3 linked regions of the Homo sapiens genome follow. The protein of the gene in region 3 interacts with the protein of the main gene of each other region in a pairwise test. Each region holds a gene or a part of one and is shown on either strand. Other genes may lie near its edges.

Region 1 (3,657 bases), on a different chromosome or scaffold from region 3:
TAATGATGACATTTTCCTAGTCACTCAGTCATGAAATTCAAAGTCGGCATTGGTACATCAGTTTGCCTTGCATTACTCTTTATTTTATTTATTTCTATTTTTTTGGGATGGAGTCTCACTCTGTCGCCCAGGCTGGAGTGCAGTGGGGTAATCTTGGCTCACTGCAGCCTCCGCCTCCTGGGTTCAAGTGATTCTTCTGCCTCAGCCTCCCGAGTAGCTGGGACTACAGGCACCCACCACCACACGCAGCTAATTTTTGTGTTTTTAGTAGAGACGGGGTTTCACCATATTAGTCAGGCTGGTCTCGAACTCCCGACCTTGTGATCCACCCACCTCGGCCTCCCGAAGTGCTGGGATTACAGGCGTGAGCCACCGCACCCGGCCACATTACTCTTTTTTAAACAGCTTTACAGAGACATAATTCATAAGTAATAAAGAGGTTTTTTTTTTGGTATATTCACAGATTTGTATACCCATCACCACAATCTAATTTTAGAACTTTTGTCTCCCCTCAAAGAAACCCAGTTAGCAGTTGCTCCCCATTTCTTCTACCTGTAGCCACGAATCTACTTTCTGTCTCTATGGATTTGTCTATTCTGGACATTTCATATAAGTGGAGTCATACAAGATACGGCCTTTTGTGTCCGACCTCTTTCATTTAGCATAACGTTTTCAAGTGCCAGCCGTGTTGTCACATCTATCAGTATTTCGTTCTTTTTTATTGCCAAACATCCTATTCTAAGGATATATCCTGTTTGTTTATCCAGTCATAAGTTGATGGAGCTTATGATGGTTTTCACTTTTTGGCTTTTAAGAATAATGCAGTTATGAACATTCATGTACGAGTTTTAGTGTGGACATCATATGTTTTCATTTTTCTTGGGTATGTACCTAGGAGAATTGTTGAATTAACGTGGTAACTCTATGTTTAACTCCCTGAGGTGCTGTCACACTGCTTTCCACAGTAGCTGTACCATTTTACATGCCCACCAGCAATGTATGGAGGTTATAATACCTACACATCCTCACCGACACCTGTTATTGTCTGTCTGTCTTTTGACAGCCATTTTAGTGAGTGAAAAGGGATGTTTAGTAGTTTTGATTTGCATTTTTCTAATTACTAATGATGTTGAGTGGTTTTCATATGCTTATAGGTTATTTGTATATCTTCTTTGGAGAAATGTCTCTTCAGATCCTTTATCTGTTTTTCAGTTGGGTTATTTATCTTTTTATTATTGAGTCATAAGAGTTCTTGAGGTATTCTGGATGCAAGTCACTCATTAGTTACATGATCTGCAAATAATTTCTCCTATTCTGTGGGTTGTGTGTTCACTTTCTTGATGGTATCATTTGTACCTTGTACTACTGCTGTATCTTCCTGCTGACCAGTTCTGTCAGTCTCATCAATGCCACCCCTTTTCCATACCCACTGTTACTTTTTTTTTTTTTCTTTTTTTTGAGATGTAGTTTTGCTCTTGTTGCCCAGGCTGGAGTGCTTTGGCATGATCTCGGCTCACTGCAACCTCCGCCTCCCAGGTTCAAGCAGTTCTGCTGTCTCAGCCTCCCGAATAGCTGGGATAACAGATGTGTGCCACCACGCCCGGCTAACTTTGTATTTTTAGTAGAGACAGGGTTTCACCATGTTGGCCAGGCCGGTCTGGAACTCCTGACTTCGAGTGATCCACGTGCCTCAGCCTCCCAAAATGCTGGGATAAAAGACGTGAGCCACCATGCCTGGCCCCACTGTTACTTTTATTACTACCTAGACTACACTTATTGAAATCCTATAATTAGCTTCTACTTCAGACTTTCTCCTGCTTTAGTCCGTCAGCAGATCAACCTTCCTTAACCATGCCTCACAGCACGTCACTTAGAAGTTTTCAGTGCTGCCCCAATGTAGACGTCTCATTCGGCTTTTTCTAGATTTATCTCCCATCACTCATTGTCACTCATAGAAGGAAGCACAAGTAATGATGTGTGTGTCACCAGGGTTAGTCTTGAGTGAAAGAGAGCCGAGGGAGATCTGAAATGGCTTTCTGATGGTAATTTCACCATAATCTAGGATCTTGCCGTTAGTGTGATTGGACCAATAACTCAGTGTCTTCAACATATCATACTTATGATGTACCAAACCCGCAAGAGATTAAAGTATACAAACCAGAATGCCATGTGATTTATAATTTTTCTTTCTATGTTAATAAGTGAGATTGGCTTGTAGGGTTTTTTTTGTTGTTGGCCAATTTTGATACCAGAGTTTTGTATAAAATTTATGAATTTTCTCCTACCCTATTGCCTTGTCCTCTTCTCCCCCTCTACTTTTTACATTTCTAGTTTTATCATATTGTGTAATCCATTGTATAGTCACATGTAATCAAATGTGCCCTGTGCATTTCCGCTTTGGAGAATTTATTGATGTTCTCTGTAGCCACGTATATTATCATTTTTGTAAATGTCCTACAGACAGTAGAAAAGGAGTATTATTTGTAGAGTATATAGGTATTGCATTAAATTAGCTTTATTGATAGCTGTCTAAACCTATAGATTCTTGTCCTTTGCCTACTTGATTTATTAAGAATTAAAGAGGGATACTTATATTTCCTGCTACAATTACAGTTCTGTTACTGTTGCCTTATTTTCTAACATTGTACTCTGACACATAAAAGTTCACAGAGTAAACTTCATTGTGAATTATAGGTTTCATCAGTTAACAATAAACTTTCATCCTGATTTTTACAGATGAAATTTACATCTGTAAAATTTTTACAGATGAAATTTACATCTGTAAAATGTAAATTTTACATCTGTAAAAATTTTACAGATGAAATTTACAAAGTAAATTTACATTGAAATTTACTTTGATATTAGTATTGTGTTGCTTGACTTTTGTTTTCATGTGACTTTTTTTTTTTTAAACTTTTGACCTTTTTGGTGATAAATTCTTTCAACTTTTCTATGTCTGAAAAAGTATTTTGGGCCGGGCGCGGTGGCTTACGCCTGTAATCCCAACACTTTGGGAGGCCGAGGTGGGCAGATCACGAGGTCAGGAGATCGAGACCATCCTGGCTAACACAGTGAAACACTGTCTCTACTAAAAATACAAAAAATTAGCCGGGCATGGTGGTGGATGCCCGTAGTCCCAGCTACTTGGGAGGCTGAGGCAGGAGAATGGTGTGAACCCAGGAGGCGGAGCTTGTAGTGAGCTGAGATTGCACCACTGTACTCCAGCCTGGGCAACAGAGCAAGACTCTGTCTAAAAAAGAAAGAAAGAAAGAAAGAAAAAGTATTTTGCCTTCACTTTGAAGATACTTTCATGGGTATAGAATTCTAAGTTGACAGGCCTTTCCGCCCCCTCCCCCACCTTCATTTCAGTATTTTAAAATGGTCTCCTGTCTCCTGGCTTGCATTGCTTCTGAGGTTCTCTGTACACAAGGGGCCTTTTTTTTGTCTGGCTGCTTTTAAGATTTTCTCCACTGATTTTAAGTGATTTGATTATGATGTGCCTTGCTGTAGTTTTTTTCATGTTTCTTGTGCTTGGAGTTTGTTGAGCTGCTTAGGTCTGTGAGTTCGTAGTTTTCATCAAATTTGAAAAAGTTTTGGCTGTTGTTTTCACATATGTATAAAATGTATGTGTGTATGTGTGTATTGTTTATATATATA
Region 2 (2,435 bases), on a different chromosome or scaffold from region 3:
GTGCCATATGGGTGGGGGAGTGAGGGAAGAAGAAGCCTTACCTTAAGGACCAGATCCCTGGCATCCATGAGAAGGCTGTGCCCAGCTTTTGTTCCATTCTCCACCAGTACCTGTTCACAAAAGGGGAAAATATGCAGAAGACTTGAATTACACGAAAGTATAAATGTCAGTAGCTGTGTAAGAGCAATCATAGAGGGAGAAGGAGTCCTAAAAAGAAATAGGCATTACATAATCAGGATGGAGACCCTCAAAGAGGGATAAAGAAACCCATGAAGGAGAAAAATGGTGAAGAATAAAGACAATGAGAGGAGCAAAGGCATGAAATCCATGAAGCTGCTTCAAGACTTAAGGAGAACAAGGAATTTTAACTCACCAGGAAATGACCTGTCTTACGCCATAAGGTTTGAACTACCTCAGTGCGGTCAGCCTTGCTGGGCAGTTCACTTAAGGAAAAAGCTGACACTACTACATCAAACTGCACCTGAGGACCAAGACAAGGAACATGACAGACTCAACATCTCTACATCCCAAGAATACAACAAAGTCCTAGCCGCTAAATTTCTTTTATCTTCTAACACTCAGTGCTGGGCTGCAAAGCTCAAGCCATAGTTTTCCATCTGCCACATTCCACATTTAGAATATTCTAAACACTGCCACTTGCCTTGGGTGATACAGGTAGAAACTGTCTGAAAAAGACACCTGGAATATAAGGCTCCCCAGATTCTGAACCACCTGTGGAGAAAAGAAGAGGCAACTGTGAGTGTGTAGGAAGTTAGGTATAAACTGAAGAGATATCCAGATAAGAAACATGGCCCCAAGAATAGGTAAAGTGTATATCAAAAAGGGCAGGGATGAGCCAGGTATGGCGGTGCGTGCCTGTAATCCCAGCTACCCTAGAGGCTGAAGTGGGAGGATGGCTTGAGGCCAGGAGTTTGAGACCAGCCTGGGTAACATATGGAGACCCTACCTCTAATTAAAAAAAAAAAAAAAAGGGCAGGGAGAATATTAGGCCTCCTGTCCTTTGATTCTTACCCAACCCATCCTCAGTCCAGCAGAAACCTCTAATACCACCCTTTGCTTGACTATAACTTTAAAAGTAAACCAGATTCATCTTAATTTTTACCCTCTTCTCTACTTCCCAGTAAAACACTTTTACTAGTACCCCTTTGCTTTCTTAACTCCCTCAACTTTGGAAGTGCTCTTGCACTCACCTTTCAGTAGTTTTTCTGCCAAAACCAACATGGCAGCTGATCTGTCCACACACATATATTCACGTAGGCTCTGGCCCCAAATACTGTGAGCAGCCCTAAGATGGCAAAATTATTATAAATCACCAATTCCCATGACCAAGAGTCATCTCTACAAGAGGCCCATTTACACCCAACCCCACCCCTGGGAAAAGAGAGTGTTATGTTAAAGTAGTTGTATAGTTAGTAATAAAATAACTAATAGTGTTATTTTCTTGTTTTATTTACAACTCCTAAAAAAAAAAAGGTAGACTCAGCTGGGCACAGTGGCTCATGCTTGTAATCCCAGCACTTTGGGAGGCCAAGGTGGGCGGATCACAAGGTCAGGAGTTAGAGACCAGCCTGGCCAATATGGTGAAACCCCGTCTCTACTAAAAATACAAAAATTAGCTGGGTGTGGTGGCGTGCACCTGTAGTCCCAGCTACTCGGGAGGGTGAGGCAGGAGAATCACTTGAACCCAGGAGTGGAGGCTGCAGTGAGCCGAGATTGTGCCACTGCACTCCAGCCTGGGCGACAGAGTGAGACACCGTTTCAAAAAAGAAAAAAAAAAGGTAGACTCAAAATACTATTTGTAGGCAAAAACAACTTTGATTGATAATTCCTTTTCTTTTTAATTTTTCTACACATGCGCCTTTTTTTACTTGACATTTCTTTTAAGTTCTGGCCCCAATCCATATACCTTCTTCTGCCTTGCCTAATCTGATGGAAGAAACATTATAGATTCCCAACTTGCCTATTCTCCCTCTGGTTTTCCAGTCTGTTAATTTTGGAGTGGTGTAAGTATGGCTTTCTAGAGCTAAAATTGACCAAGATAGGGCTGAAGAAAGTTACTCACCAGGTGACAGAACCAGTACCTGAGCCAAAGTCCATCAAAGTTTGTGGCTGAAATGCTGGATTTCGAGCCCGGATCTGAAGAAATATACAACATCCCACAGTAGGGTAATTAGATACTTATTTAGGACCTTGATAAATGTGAATTAGGAGGCTATCACAGAGGATGTGAGATGTGAATGCCTTTTGAGATTCAATACAAATACCTTATGGGATAAGAATCTCCTAAAATAGTGATTCTAAACCTTTCTTGGGTCACAGAAAGCTTTCACAGGATAAAGAGAACGTCTTTATTTTGTGTTTTTTTTAAGAGATGAGGTCTCACTCTGTCACCAGGCTGGAGTACAGTGGAGATC
Region 3 (3,657 bases):
TATGCACCTGTGGTCCTAGCTACTAGGGAGGTTGGGGTGGGAGGATCGCTGGAGCCTAGGAGGTCAAGGCCACAGTGAGCTATGATTGCACCACTGCATTCCAGCCTAGGAGACAAGAAACACTGTCTCAAAAATGAAAAAAAAAAATGCCCAAAACAATTCAAACCATTAATTAGTTTATCTTTTTTTTCTTGTTTTATTTTATCTGAATGTCCCAAATAGCAGCTATTTCATGACTATTTTCAACTCAAGCTGGAAGGAGGCTCTGTCCCATTTGAATGTTTTCAAATCCTAGATGGAAACACTTGTAGAAAGTACGCTCGATAGCCAGGAAAGCTCTCAGCTGCAGGCTGAACCTGCTGGACTCCCAGCAACTTGGGCAGTGAAAGAAATGGGCTGTGGAATAAATGCATGTAATCGATCTAAGAACCTGGAAAAGGGTAGATTGAAGGAGCCTGTGGAAATTAAGAGCGTTAACCATACTTCCAGTGACTCATCTTGGCTACAGCTGACTTTACCCCAAGCCCAGCAGGTCACCTGGGACAGCCCTGACTTCTCAGATTGTATTAACCACGCTTTTATTTTCTGATGCTTTGATATTTTAGTGTCTTGTGGATCCCAGAGGTATAGTCTCTCCTAGGATTAGCTAATTCCTAGAGGCCTGACTTTTATATGCAAACCAACCAGTCCAGAGCTAATTCCTAGGAGCCTGACTTTCATATGCAAACTAACCAGTCCAGAGCCCACTCCCCAGCAGCCTCCTATATTGGTCCATCACACTTAGGGCTGCCTTCCATCTGTTTTTTTTTTTTTGTCTGAGACAGAGTCTTGCTGTGTGTCCAAGGCTGGAGTGCAGTGGCCTGATCTCGGCTCACTGCAATCCCCACCTCCCGGGTTCATGCAATTCTCCTACCTCAGCCTCTGGAGTAGCTGGGATTACAGGCACACACCACCATGCCCGGCTAATTTTTGTATTTTTAGTAGAGACAGGGTTTCACCATGTTGGCCAGGCCGGTCTCGAACTCCTGACCTCTGGTGATCCACCCGCCTCAGCCTCCCAAAGTGCTGGGATTACAGGTGTGAGCCACTGTGCCCAGCCCTTCCACCTGTATTGATCACCCCAGCACCAGCAGCCAGACAACTAAGGACAGCCCCTACACCCCAGAGCACACTGGAATTATCCACTCTAACCAATCCTAAACCCGTTTACCCTGCCTCCCATGAAACCACAATAAAGGCTGTTGTTTGCCACATTTCCCCTCACTCCCTCCACCTCCTGACCCACCTGGGGCTTCCCCAGGTGCCCCCCACTTTACGGTGTTCTACACCTCTTGGTGTAGAGTGCCCTTTCCTCTTGGGATCAGAGAGTATAAAAATTATCTCGTCAAAGAGAGTTGTCTGCTGATCTATCTGTTGGCCTTATCATACCTAAATAATAAGACATTATATATATGTTGGAGACCGGGCCTTGCTATGTTGCCCAGGCTTGAGTGCAGTGATAGTCACAGGTTCAGCCATAGCTCACTACAGCCTCGAACTCCTGGGCTCAAGTGATCCTCCTGCCTCAGTCTCTGGAGTAGCTGGGACCGAAGGCATATACCACTGTACCCAGCTAATAAGACATATTTTAAAACATGGATGTTGCAATGGGATATGATTGCTTTAGCATCTAATCCCCTCACTCCAACGGCATCCTCTGTCTTTTCCTGGTAAGAAAAAGTGCCGAATGACCACTAGAAGGACCTGAAGTCCAGCAGCGTTTCCTAATCAGGGTTCCTCATCTTAATCACAGAATTCAAAAAATAACTAGAGTGGTGAGTTTCTGGATTGTCTCAAGGACTCCATAACTAGCCCCACTCTCCATGCATGGAGGTTAATTCATTACACACAGCAGAGATCACGGGGAAATGGGGCTTATTTTTTCTAGAGAACGCAGTTGGGAAAGGCCGAGTCTAAGGTCTAGGTGTACCCGAGAACCCTTAATCCTGCCTCATAGAAGCAATTCGTCTTGCCAGGAGATGATGATGGCATCACGGTGTGGTGTCCCATCCCTGTGCCACCCTGGCTAACGTTACCTGGGCTCGGTGCTCCCCGACGGCGAACTGTATCACGGCCACGCCCGGGCTATGGCTGTCTTCAATCCTCTCTACGGTGCTGGAGTCGATCTTCAGGTCGTTGCTTATCTCTGCACTCTGGATGAAATCTTCTGTTTTTAAGTCTTCCACCTTCTTTAGCTCCCCGTTGGCCAACTGGATGATGGAGCCTTTCATGAAGTAGGGAGGCAGCGTAGGGGGAGCCGCCGCCGGGGAGGCCACGGACTGCACCACAGGCAGGTGGATCTGGGCCTGCACCATGGCTGGGTAGGCGGCCTGGGTGACCAGGGCCTCAGGGTTGAAGTTCTCGCTCTTGGGAAGGGCGGTGGTGACGAACGTGTGAGGCACTGCAGCAAACTGGGGGGATGACGTGACTATGGCCGGGGCTGCCCCCGACGCTTCCATGTCAGTGCTGCCGACCGGGATGAGCAGGGGCTGTGTGCCGGGGATCACCAGGTGCTGGGGCAGGCTGCCGGCGTAGGTGATTGCTTGCTGCTGGCCGCTCAGGTAGCCGATGACAGGGGGTTGAGTCCCTGCGTAGAAGGCCGTGGCTGGCAGTCCCACCGGGAGTGGCTCTGAAGCACTGTGTGTGGTCTGAATGACCGTGTGGGGTGAGAGCGCGTAGGACCGGTGGCCAGGCTTCCCTAAATGCAGGCCACTTTTGTCGTTGAGGGTAGAAGGGGAGGCTTCACGATGAGTGGCCTGTTGCACCTCCAGGTCAGCTGCGGGCGTGTTGCTGTTGGGCAGGACCATCACAGAGGCCCGGACCCCCGAAGGATCACGACTGCTGTAGTCTGAGGGGCTCGGGTGGACCACCACGTGCCTGGACTCGTACGGGTGAGGAACCGACTTGCCGCCTGCCTTGCCCAGGCCCAGGTCGGCTGAGGACGGGGCCCCGTACCGCCGGCTCTTCTCCATCTCACCGTTCAGGACCTCCTTGGCCTGGATGGCCTGCTGCAGCCGGCTGCTCTCAGCTTTCTTGGTGGCCTCCCGAGGGACAAAGTGGCTGCCGGAGTCGGCGTATTGCATGACGACCTGGGAGGGGGGCCCCAGGGTGAGCGTGTGTGGGATCATCGTCTGGTGGGGGTGGAGGTGGACGGGGATGGCCGGAGGAGAGGCGGTGCGGCCGGTGTTCTGCGGAGAACTGGAAATGTGGACGTACTGGTTCTGCTGGGCTGGTGGGGGGGACCCCGGGGTGATGAGCCCCGGAGCCCTGCTGAGGTGCTGCTGCTGCTGCTGCTGCTGCTGCTGCTGCTGCTGCTGCTGATGCTGATGCTGCTGCTGCTGCTGCTGCTGCTGCTGCTGCTGCTGCTCAGCCTTGTGTCCCGGCGTCTGGCTCAGACTGCCCATGTTGGCCAGCAGAGTGGAATAGGCCTCCAGCTGGGAGCGCTGGGATGGAGTGGTGGCCCCTGCGGCCGAGGCCACTGCACTGGTGACGGGGTTGGCGGTTGGGGGGATCAGCTGTGATGGGATGAAGCTGGCATAGGTTCCACTGTATTGGGAGGACCCAATGAACTGGAAGGTGTGCGGCAGGTGAGCGTACTGCACGGGGGACACCGGGGTC

Evidence for each region.
Region 1: the proteins of ATXN1 (region 3) and ZBTB43 interact in binary tests that used the Homo sapiens proteins (3 or more experiments, as listed by UniProt).
Region 2: the proteins of ATXN1 (region 3) and METTL17 interact in binary tests that used the Homo sapiens proteins (3 or more experiments, as listed by UniProt).

What each region holds. Positions count from the first base shown.
Region 1 is NC_000009.12:126,811,540-126,815,196, forward strand, and holds part of ZBTB43 (zinc finger and BTB domain-containing protein 43), read left to right. Parts: intron 1-3,657. UniProt on the Homo sapiens protein: May be involved in transcriptional regulation.
Region 2 is NC_000014.9:20,992,840-20,995,274, reverse strand, and holds part of METTL17 (ribosome assembly protein METTL17, mitochondrial isoform 2 precursor), read right to left. Parts: intron 2,158-2,435; coding exon 2,084-2,157; intron 1,307-2,083; coding exon 1,212-1,306; intron 733-1,211; coding exon 662-732; intron 482-661; coding exon 374-481; intron 111-373; coding exon 42-110; intron 1-41. UniProt on the Homo sapiens protein: Mitochondrial ribosome (mitoribosome) assembly factor. Binds at the interface of the head and body domains of the mitochondrial small ribosomal subunit (mt-SSU), occluding the mRNA channel and preventing compaction of the head domain towards the body.
Region 3 is NC_000006.12:16,324,319-16,327,975, forward strand, and holds part of ATXN1 (ataxin-1), read right to left. Parts: coding exon 2,076-3,657; intron 1-2,075. UniProt on the Homo sapiens protein: Chromatin-binding factor that repress Notch signaling in the absence of Notch intracellular domain by acting as a CBF1 corepressor. Binds to the HEY promoter and might assist, along with NCOR2, RBPJ-mediated repression. Binds RNA in vitro.